Linked DNA regions of Homo sapiens: region 2 is linked to region 1. Evidence: fine-mapped expression QTL. A gene starts in region 1. The other region holds a variant in brackets. All regions are shown on one strand. Distances are between the middles of the regions. Region 1 holds the start of MOK (MOK protein kinase). Region 2 overlaps MOK (MOK protein kinase).

Evidence for each region.
Region 2: its variant is fine-mapped to the expression of MOK in testis (GTEx, PIP above 0.99). The same link has a PIP of 0.9 or more in lung.

What each region holds. Positions count from the first base shown.
Region 1 is chr14:102,303,205-102,307,586 of GRCh38, reverse strand. MOK (MOK protein kinase) reads left to right here and starts at 2,423. Exons shown (of 12, transcript NM_014226.3): 1 at 2,423-2,625. The coding sequence starts at 2,619. RefSeq lists enhancers at 2,204-2,253, 2,020-2,542.
Region 2 is chr14:102,234,241-102,238,622 of GRCh38, reverse strand. The region is part of intron 7 of MOK (MOK protein kinase); the gene reads left to right. Among named protein-coding and RNA genes, the nearest start is that of MOK, 69 kb to the left of the region's middle. The variant T/G (reference allele first, on the strand shown) is at 2,016.

The DNA of each region.
Region 1 (4,382 bases):
CAAAGATAGCACCACCAACAATAATACACCAGCAATAATCGCTATTTATTTTTTCAACTTTTTTATTGAGAGAAAATTTACATAAAATTCACCATTGTAACCATTTATTTATTTATTATTTTTTGAGATGGAGTCTTGCTCTGTCGCCCAGACTGGAGTGTAGTGGCAGGATCTCGACTCACTGTAGCCTCCACCTCCTGGGTTCAAGTGATTCTCCCGCCTCAGCCTCCTGAGTAGCTGGGATTACAGGAGCGCATCACCACACCTGGCTAATTTTTGTATTTTTAGTAGTGACAGGGTTTCACCATGTTGGTTGGCCAGCTGGTCTCGAATTCCTGACCTCAGTTGGTCCATCCTCCTCGGCCTCCCAAAGTGCTGGGATTATAGGTGTGAGCCACCACGCCTGGCTTGTTTTGTATTTTATTTATGTATTTGCTTTTTTAGACGGAGTCTCACTCTGTCGCCCAGGCTGGAGTGCAGTGGCGCAATCTCGGCTCACTGCAACCTCCGCCTCCCGGGTTCAAGCAATTCTCTGCCTCAGCCTCCCGAGTAGCTGGGATTACAGGTGCCTGCCACCACACCCGGCTCATTTTTCTATTTTCAGTAGAGATGGGGTTTCACCATCTTGGCCAGGCTAGTCTTGAACTCCTGACCTGGGGATCCACCCGCCTTGGCCTCCCAAAGTGCTGGGATTACAGGCATCAGCCACTGTGCCCAGCCGTTTTGTATTTTTTTAGTAGAGACGGGGTTTCCCCCATGTTGGCCAGGCTGGTCTCGAACTCCTGGACTCAAGTGATCTGCCTGCCTCGGCCGCCCAACGTGCTGGGATTGCAGGTGTGAGCCACCGCGACCGGCCGCTTTCTCTTTCTTTCGAGACAAGGTCTTGCTTTGTCACCCAGGCTAGAGTGCAGTGGTGCTATCATAGCTCACTGAGCCTAGAACTCCTGGTCTCAAGATACCTCCGCCTTATTCTCCTGAATAGCTGGGTTTACAGGCATGTGCCACCGTGCCCGGCTTTTTTTTTTTTTTTTTTTTTTTTTTGAGTCTCTTGCTCTGTCGCCCAGGCTGCAGTGCAGGTGGTGCAATCTCGGCTCACTGCAAGCTCCGCCTCCAGGGTTCACGCCATTCTCCTGCCTCAGCCCCCGGAGTAGCTGGAACTATAGCGCCCGCCACTACGCCCGGCTAATTTTTTTTGTATTTTTAGTAGAGATGGGGTTTCACCGTGTTAGCCAGGATGGTCTCGATTTCCTGACCTCGTGATCTGCCCGCCTTGGCCTCCCAAAGTGCTGGGATTACAGGCGTGAGCCACCACGCCCGGAGTTTTTTTTTTTTTTTTTTTAAGAGGGAAGTGGGGTTTCTCTATGTTGCCCAGGCTGGTCTTGAATTTCTGGCCTCAAGCGATCCTCTTGCCTCGGCCTTCCAAAGTGCTGGGATTACAGGTGTGAGCCACCACACCTGGCCAATTCAGTCTTAAACCAATTTTCTGAGGCTTCGTTTTGGCAAGGCTACTTATCTGTTTTAAAAATAAACGATGTATTTTAGTAAAAGAAAAAAAATGGAGGAAAAAACAGGGTTTTGATCTCATGGAATAATTATGAGGCTAATCTAATGAGCTTCATAAAATACTATACCCATACATAGTATGCTTGTTATTTTATTGTTTTGTCAGGGTCCAGAGAACTAGGCCACTGTGTTGCTTAGGCACCGTGTCTGCACATAGTTCATTCCGGTGTACATTCATTCATCTTTACACTAGAATGTTAGTTTCAAGAACTCAGTCACCTCGTCTACACTGTCCTTTAATCCCCAATACCTGCGACAGTTCCTGGGGCAAAAACAAATGCTTGTTGAATTAAAAAGAAAAACTGGGCCGGGCGTGGTGGCTCACGCCTGTAATCCCAGCACTTCGGGAGGCCGAGGCAGGCGGATCACCTGAGGTCAGGAGTTCGAGACCAGCCTAACATGGTGAAACCCCGTCTCTACTAAAAATACAAAAACATTAGCCGGGTGTAGTGGTGGGTGCCTGTAATCCCAGCTACTTGGGAGGCTGAGGCAGGAGAATCGCTTGAAGCCGGGAGGCGGAGGTTGCAGTGAGCCGAGATCACGCCATTGCACCCCAACCTGGGTAACAGAGCGACACTCTGTCTCAAAAAAAAAAAAAAATTCCTGTAGAAGCTCCCAAGCCCAATTAAAGCTCAAGGCTATCGTCCACGTAGTGGGTTCCAAATCGCTAAGTTCCCAGGCCAGCAGGGAGAGCGAGCCGAGCGAAGGTCGCCTGTGTCAAAGGCGGGGATTTGCACAGTATTTACATGGAAGCGGAGGAAAGGCTGCTTAGCAACCGGGCTGAGGGGACGGGCTGCACTGCGCACGCGTACATGGGCGGGGCATCTTGCGCATGCGCAGGCGACAGCTCATGGCGTTCAGGGCCTGACGGTTGCTAGGGTGACAGGGACACAACATGGCGGCGGGATCTCTAACGCTCTCCTTCGAGGGACCACCACGGAGATCCTAGTGCGGGACCCCGCCTCAGGGAAGTGGAAAGCAGGGGGACAACCTTCCTGCTTCTTTCTTTTCCGTCCAGTGTCGGCAAGGGGTTGTCACCGGCTTCCGCATCCAAGATGAAGAGTGAGTGGGGCCGGGGAAAGGGGCAGGGACTGGAGAGCGAGTGGCGGGGGAGGGAGGGACTGGGGGAGCTTGAGGAGCTTGAGGGGCCTGTGGGGCCGGGCGTCGTCGCCTTCTGCCGTGGCTCGACAGGCCCGGGAGGCTCCGCATGTGGGCCCCGAATCCCCCTCGGCTGTGAGAAGCCGGTGCCCCTGGGGGAAGCTTGAGGGGTTGGGGCTAGGTTGGGAACTTTGGGGTCTCGGAGAGCCGACTCGAGTTCCCGCTCAGGCATATTTTGGTGCAGGTGCGTGGTTCTTACATTGGAGTTTAGGGAGTTGACTGTGATTCATTTTATTTTATTTTAAATGCTGGCTTGAACCTGACACTCTTTTCCTGAACATTCGGCAGAAAACGGGGGAGCGCTTACAGCGTGGCTCCCTGCCTTTTCATGATACTGGTTTAGTGACCAATTGAGAGGAAAGCTGGGCTGTGTGCTTTATTTTATTTTTTGGGTCAAGCAGTAGTGTTTTATAGGAACCACTTTTTAATAGTAGTTTTGAAGCAACCTTTTAGTTAAAAGCTGTTACTTCAAAGTTGGGAAATGAGGTAGTCATTCTAGAAAATGTAACGGGTAAAAAATTTTCTTTAGTGGGATTTGTGGATTATTGACAATCCAAGTGCAACCAGCTAGAATGATGTTTTTAAAATTATTATTACTGTACAGATATAATTGTTTATGGTTGTGAACCAGAGGTGCAGTAAAAATTCAGACCTTTGCTGTGAAAATATTATGTTAGGAGTAGTTATAATGTTAAATTTGCATTGTATCCTAATTGTCAATGGTGTACATTGCATAACATTTAAAATAATTAATCTCATTCACCCTTTACAAGGCATTTTTATTTTTATTTTATTTTGTTGGATATTGTTTAATGTTTACCTTTTTCATTAATGCACTACAAAGCTGTAGTTAGAATCCAAGGTCTACAAAAGACTTTACACTTTTACTTACAGTGCAGACTATGATACTGCACATATTTTGTACTATATTCATTTTTTTCTTCCCATCTGTTTGTTTTGAAAATTTTCAGATGTACAGGAAAGTTGCAAGAGCAGTACATTGAATATTTATAAACCCGTCCTTCACTTAGCTGCACCATTTTGCCTTATTTTTGTGTGCTCGCTTTCGCTCTGGTGTTTTCTCTCTCCCATTTATGTATTTATTTTCACTGGACCTTTCAAGAGTTAGTTGTAGACTACTAATAATTCACCACTTCTTTCAGCAGTTATCTGCCAAGAACAAGGACATTCTCCTACATCATCACAGTACAAATAACACATTTAGAAAATTTAACAATGATACAATACTCTGATACACAGTCCATATTTCAGTTTTTCCATTTATCCCAATAACATGTGTTATAGTTGTTTATATTTTTTCTATCCAATCAAGAATCACCAATTGTATTCTGTTGTCATATCTCTTTGGTCTCTTTTAATATGGTGTCCCTGCCTTTTGTGTCTTTCATGACAATGATATTTTCATTTTTATTTGGCTGTCCTCTGTAGGCCAAATGACATTTTTAAAGAATCCAGCCCAGTGTTTTGCAGAATATCGCTCAATTTGGATTTGTCTGATTTTCGCCTCATGATTAGCTTCAGCTTAAATGTTTTTACCAGGAATATGTGAGAGGCAACGTTGTGTCTCTGTCAGTGTGGCCCTTCCAGAGTGCCTGATGTCAGTTCGTTGCAGTTTTGCTGAAGTTAGATTTGATCATTTG
Region 2 (4,382 bases), 69 kb after region 1:
TTTCAGTGGGGGGTACTGAGGTTGGACTGCAGGGGTAATGAGGAGGAGGGAGGCAGGAGCGGAAGAAAGGGAGGCTTCTTTTGCTGCCCCATTGGTCTTTCTGTTGCCTCTTGAGATTTTATCTGTTCCTGTGTGATGTCCCCAACAGTGTATAACTCCTGCCTCAGTTGGGAGATGTGCGGCTTGAAGGAGTTGGTAAATAAGGGGGTGGTTAGTGATAGGGTCACTTTGGCAGTAAGGAATCTCCTCTCTTGCCAGATGGTGGCGTGGGAATGAAGAATGTGATATACATCTTTGGAGTCTGTGTAAGTGTTGACTCGTTTGCCTTTGGAAAGGGTTAGGGCTCTGGTGAGAGCTATGAATTCTGCTTTTTGAGAGGAGGTTCCTGGAGGTAGGGGCTTAGCTTCAATTACTCGGTCAAGGGAAACAACTGCATACCCAGCAATTTTGGGGGAGCCAGTGGGCCCAGAAGGGGGGCCATCTATAAATAGCTGGTCATCGGGGTTGGTGAGAGGCTCGGAGGAAATGTTAGGAAAGTGTGGCTGCAGGTGATCTAGGACGTCAGTGCAAGAATGAGTAGGAAGGGAAGAAGATACAGGGAGTAAGGATGCTGGGTTGAAGGGAGCACTTTTGGCAAGACCGAATTCAGGATTTTTGATAGAGGGCATGGAGTAATTGAATCCGGAAAGGAGGGAGCCTCATGCTCGGGAGGAGAGGAGATCCTGTAGATTATGAGGACTGTAGGTGGTGGTATTTTGACTCAATGTTAGTTTCCTGCTTACAGCTAAAGTGGCCGCTGCTGCTAGCATTCTAAGACAGGTTGGCCATCCTCTGACTGTGTTGTCTAACTGTTTAGAGAGGTAGGCTACAGGGGCAAAGGAAGGAGGGTCTCCTTTCTGTTGCCCTAAGACACCGAGGGCTATTCCTCATCTTTTGGCAGTATAGAGTGTGAGAGGTTGGGAGATACCAGGTAAGGACAGAGCTGGTGCAGTGACAAGAGCGGTTTGAAGTTTGCAGAAGTTGGGGAGTATGTTACGTGAGGGATTTAGAGGCTCACTGAGAGGGCCTTTGGCTGCTTCATAGAGTGGGTGAGCTAGGAGGGCAAAGTTGGGAATCCATATTCTAAAAAAGCCTGCTAGTTCTAGGAAGGAAAGAACTTCGCTTTTGGAGGAGGGCGAGGGCAGATTATCTATTAGTGCTGCTAGGGCAGGGGTCATAGCCCGGGTCCCAGGGGAAAGTTGAACTCCTAGGTAAGTTACTATGGAGGTGGAAAGTTGAGCTTCGGAGGGGGAGACTCTATACCCTTTGATGGAGAGAAAGTTTTAAGAGAGTAACTGTGTGAGTTTGAGAGTCTTCTAGAGAGGGGCTGCAAAGGAGAAGATTGTCCACGTATTGAAGGAGACGGCTAGGGAAAAGGTTTAAGGAAGTGAGATCTTGAGCTAAAGCTTGTCCAAAGAAGTGAGGGTTATCTCTGAAGCCTTGAGGGAGGACAGTCCAGGTTAGTTGTTGTGACTGGAGGGTGTCAAGGTCGGTCCAGGTGAAAGCAAAGAGGTTTTGGGAATCAGGGTGCAGGGGAATAGTAAAAAAAGTCATCTTTTAGGTCAATAGCAGTGTAGCAGGTGGTGTTGGAGGGAATGAGACAGAGAAGTGTAGAGGGGTTAGGGACTATGGGATGAATAGGAAAGACAGCCTGACTGATGGCTCGGAGGTCTTGCAGGAGTCGGTATGAGCCGTCTGATTTTTTAACCAGGAGGATGGTGGTGTTATATGAAGAACGTGTTGGCCTAAGAAGACGGCGTGAACAGAGCTTGTTTGTGATGGGCTGTAAGCCTTTTTGGTGGGTTAGGGAGATAGGGTTTTTGGGGATGCTGGGAAATTTAGAGAGGTCTTTTAACTGGATTTTGATGGGGTCGTGGTGAGTAGCTAGGGAAGGGGTGGTGGTGTCCCACCCTGTTGGGTTTACAAAAGAGGTGGGAAGTGGGTACTGGGGAGAGGGGTCAGGGGCTGGACTCGCA[T/G]AGAGGAGTAGGAGGGACTCCGGTTGAGGGAGGGAGAAAAAGGTGATAGAAGCTTTGAATTTGGCCAAAATTTGAATTTGAATTTGGCTTTGAATTTGGCCTAGGATGGGGGTAGGGCAACGAGGCATGATAAGGAAAGAGTGTGGGAAAACAGTATCAAACAGAGAGCAAGTAAGGGGTCTGGTGGCGCGTGGACGCAAGATGAGTCCATCAGCCCCCACAACTGAGACCTGAGAGGGATGAGTGGGTCCTGAAAATTCAGGCAAAGCTGAGTAGGTGGCCCCGCTATCAATTTAAAAAGAGATCGGCTTACCTGCTACTCGCAGAGTTACCCTGGGCTCCAATGCAGTGATGGCAGATGGGGCCGGGGGCCCTGGGCCCGGTCAGTCCTCAGCGGCTAGGCTGAGGAGCTGCGGGAATGCAAGCGGTTCTTCACTTTTTGTCTTGTTAAAGGGGTGGTGGCTCTGAGGAGCAGGCTTGTCTGTCTGTTGAGAGGACAGTCGGACTTCCAGTGGCCTGTCTGCTGGCACACTGGACAAGGACTCTTTGGCACTCAAGGGTTAGGATACACCCATGCCCAGTGGCCTTCTTTGCCACACTTAAAACAAGGCCCGGAGGGTTGCTGCTATCGGGTCTTTTGTGCCCTTGGGTGATACGGCTGGGTTGATGGACAGCCGCTGCTAGAAGCTGGTATTTAGCACGATCTCTTTGGGCTTTATCTAATTTATTTTGCTCATCCCTGTTATTAAAGACTTTGAAAGCCAAGTTAAGGAGGTCTCGTTGTGGGGTCTGAGGGGCATCTTCAGCCTTTTTAAGTTTGCGCCAGATGTCGGGGGCAGATTGGGAAATAAAATGGATGTAAAGAACAATAGTTCCTTCCCGGGAGGCGGGATCGACACGCGTGTATTTTTGGAGAGTCTCTGTAAGGCGAGAAAGGAATTGGGCAGGGTTTTCATTGGCCTTTTGGGAGATTCCTTTGAGTTTTTCGAAATTTACAGCCTTATGGGCAGTTTTGTTAAGGCCTGCAGTGAGGCAAGTAATCATATGATTACAGGAGGTCTGGCAGGGGCCTGTGGGTTGATACGCCCAGGTACGCTCTTCTCAGGGAACTGCAGCGGCCCCTACTGGCCTAGTAGGATCTTGCCGATGGAGGTCATCGGCATGGGCCTGGGCTGCAAGCCACACTCTTTCCTTTTCTTCCGGAAGGAGGGTAGAAGACAAAATAATATAGAGATCATGCCAAGTAAGTTCATAAGACTGGGTGAGATATTTAAATTATTTGATGTAAGTGTCGGGATCGGAGAAGAACCTGGACGTTTCTCAATTTGGGAAACATTAGAGAGGGAAAATGGGACGTGGACACGGACCATCCCTTCGGCCCATGCCACTTCCCGGAGAAGAAGCAAGGGAGCAGGCTGCTGGGCGTGTTGGGCTCGAGAACGAGTAAGGGGTGGAGATGGGGAGGACTCAGAGTCGGAGGTGGGGTGGTTGGAGAGAAGGGGAGAGAGAGGTAGAGCCGGAGCGGAGGCATACGGTGGGGGGTCATGCTGTTCCGGTGGAGGATTAGGATGTTGTCGAGGAGGGGAGAAATCGGTGGGATCAAAGAAGGAGAAGTCGTCCGCTGGGGCTATTGGGATGAGGGGAGCAGGAGGTGAGTCGGGTTTGGAGCAGGCGAGGAGAATTTGAAAAGTACAGCAGGACTGGCAGAGGGAGGGACGACTACAGAGAGTAAAGAAAGCCTGAACATGAGGAATCTCAGACCACTTCCCACTGCGGTGGCAAAAGTTGTCTAAGTCTCTGAGCATGTCGGAATCGAAAGTGCCATTTTCAGGCCATTGGGAGCCATGGTCTGATTTGTATTGAGGCCATGTGGTGTTACAGTAAAAGATAAGCCTTTTAGGGCAGATTTCTGAACGGAGGCCAAGAGTATACAGATTGTGTAGGAGGCACCCAAGGGGGGTAGTTTTAGGAGGAATAGACTGAGAGGCTCCCATAGTGAATGGAAGGGAGGGGGGTAGAGGAAGAAGAGACTGCCGGTGACGTCCCCTTTCCCGCGGAACTTGTCAGGAATAGAGGAGGTAACCACCGTGTCAGGCGTCCCTGAAACGGAGGAACCAGAGGCCTGGAGGCTGGAGGAAGCCCTTGGCCCAGCGCTGGGTCTTTCGGAAATGGGAGATGGACGGTCAAGAGTTCAGGGAATGGCAACAGTCTCTTTTTACTCACCCTGGCGGAGGCTTTGATGGTGGATGAAGTCACCAGCAATGGGAGAGTCTAGGAGATTGTCTGGGTCTTTGGCAGGTTCGGGGAAGGGGAGATTGGCCAGGAGAGGGGTGATAGGGGAGGGAGGGAGAGAGAGAGAAAAAGAGA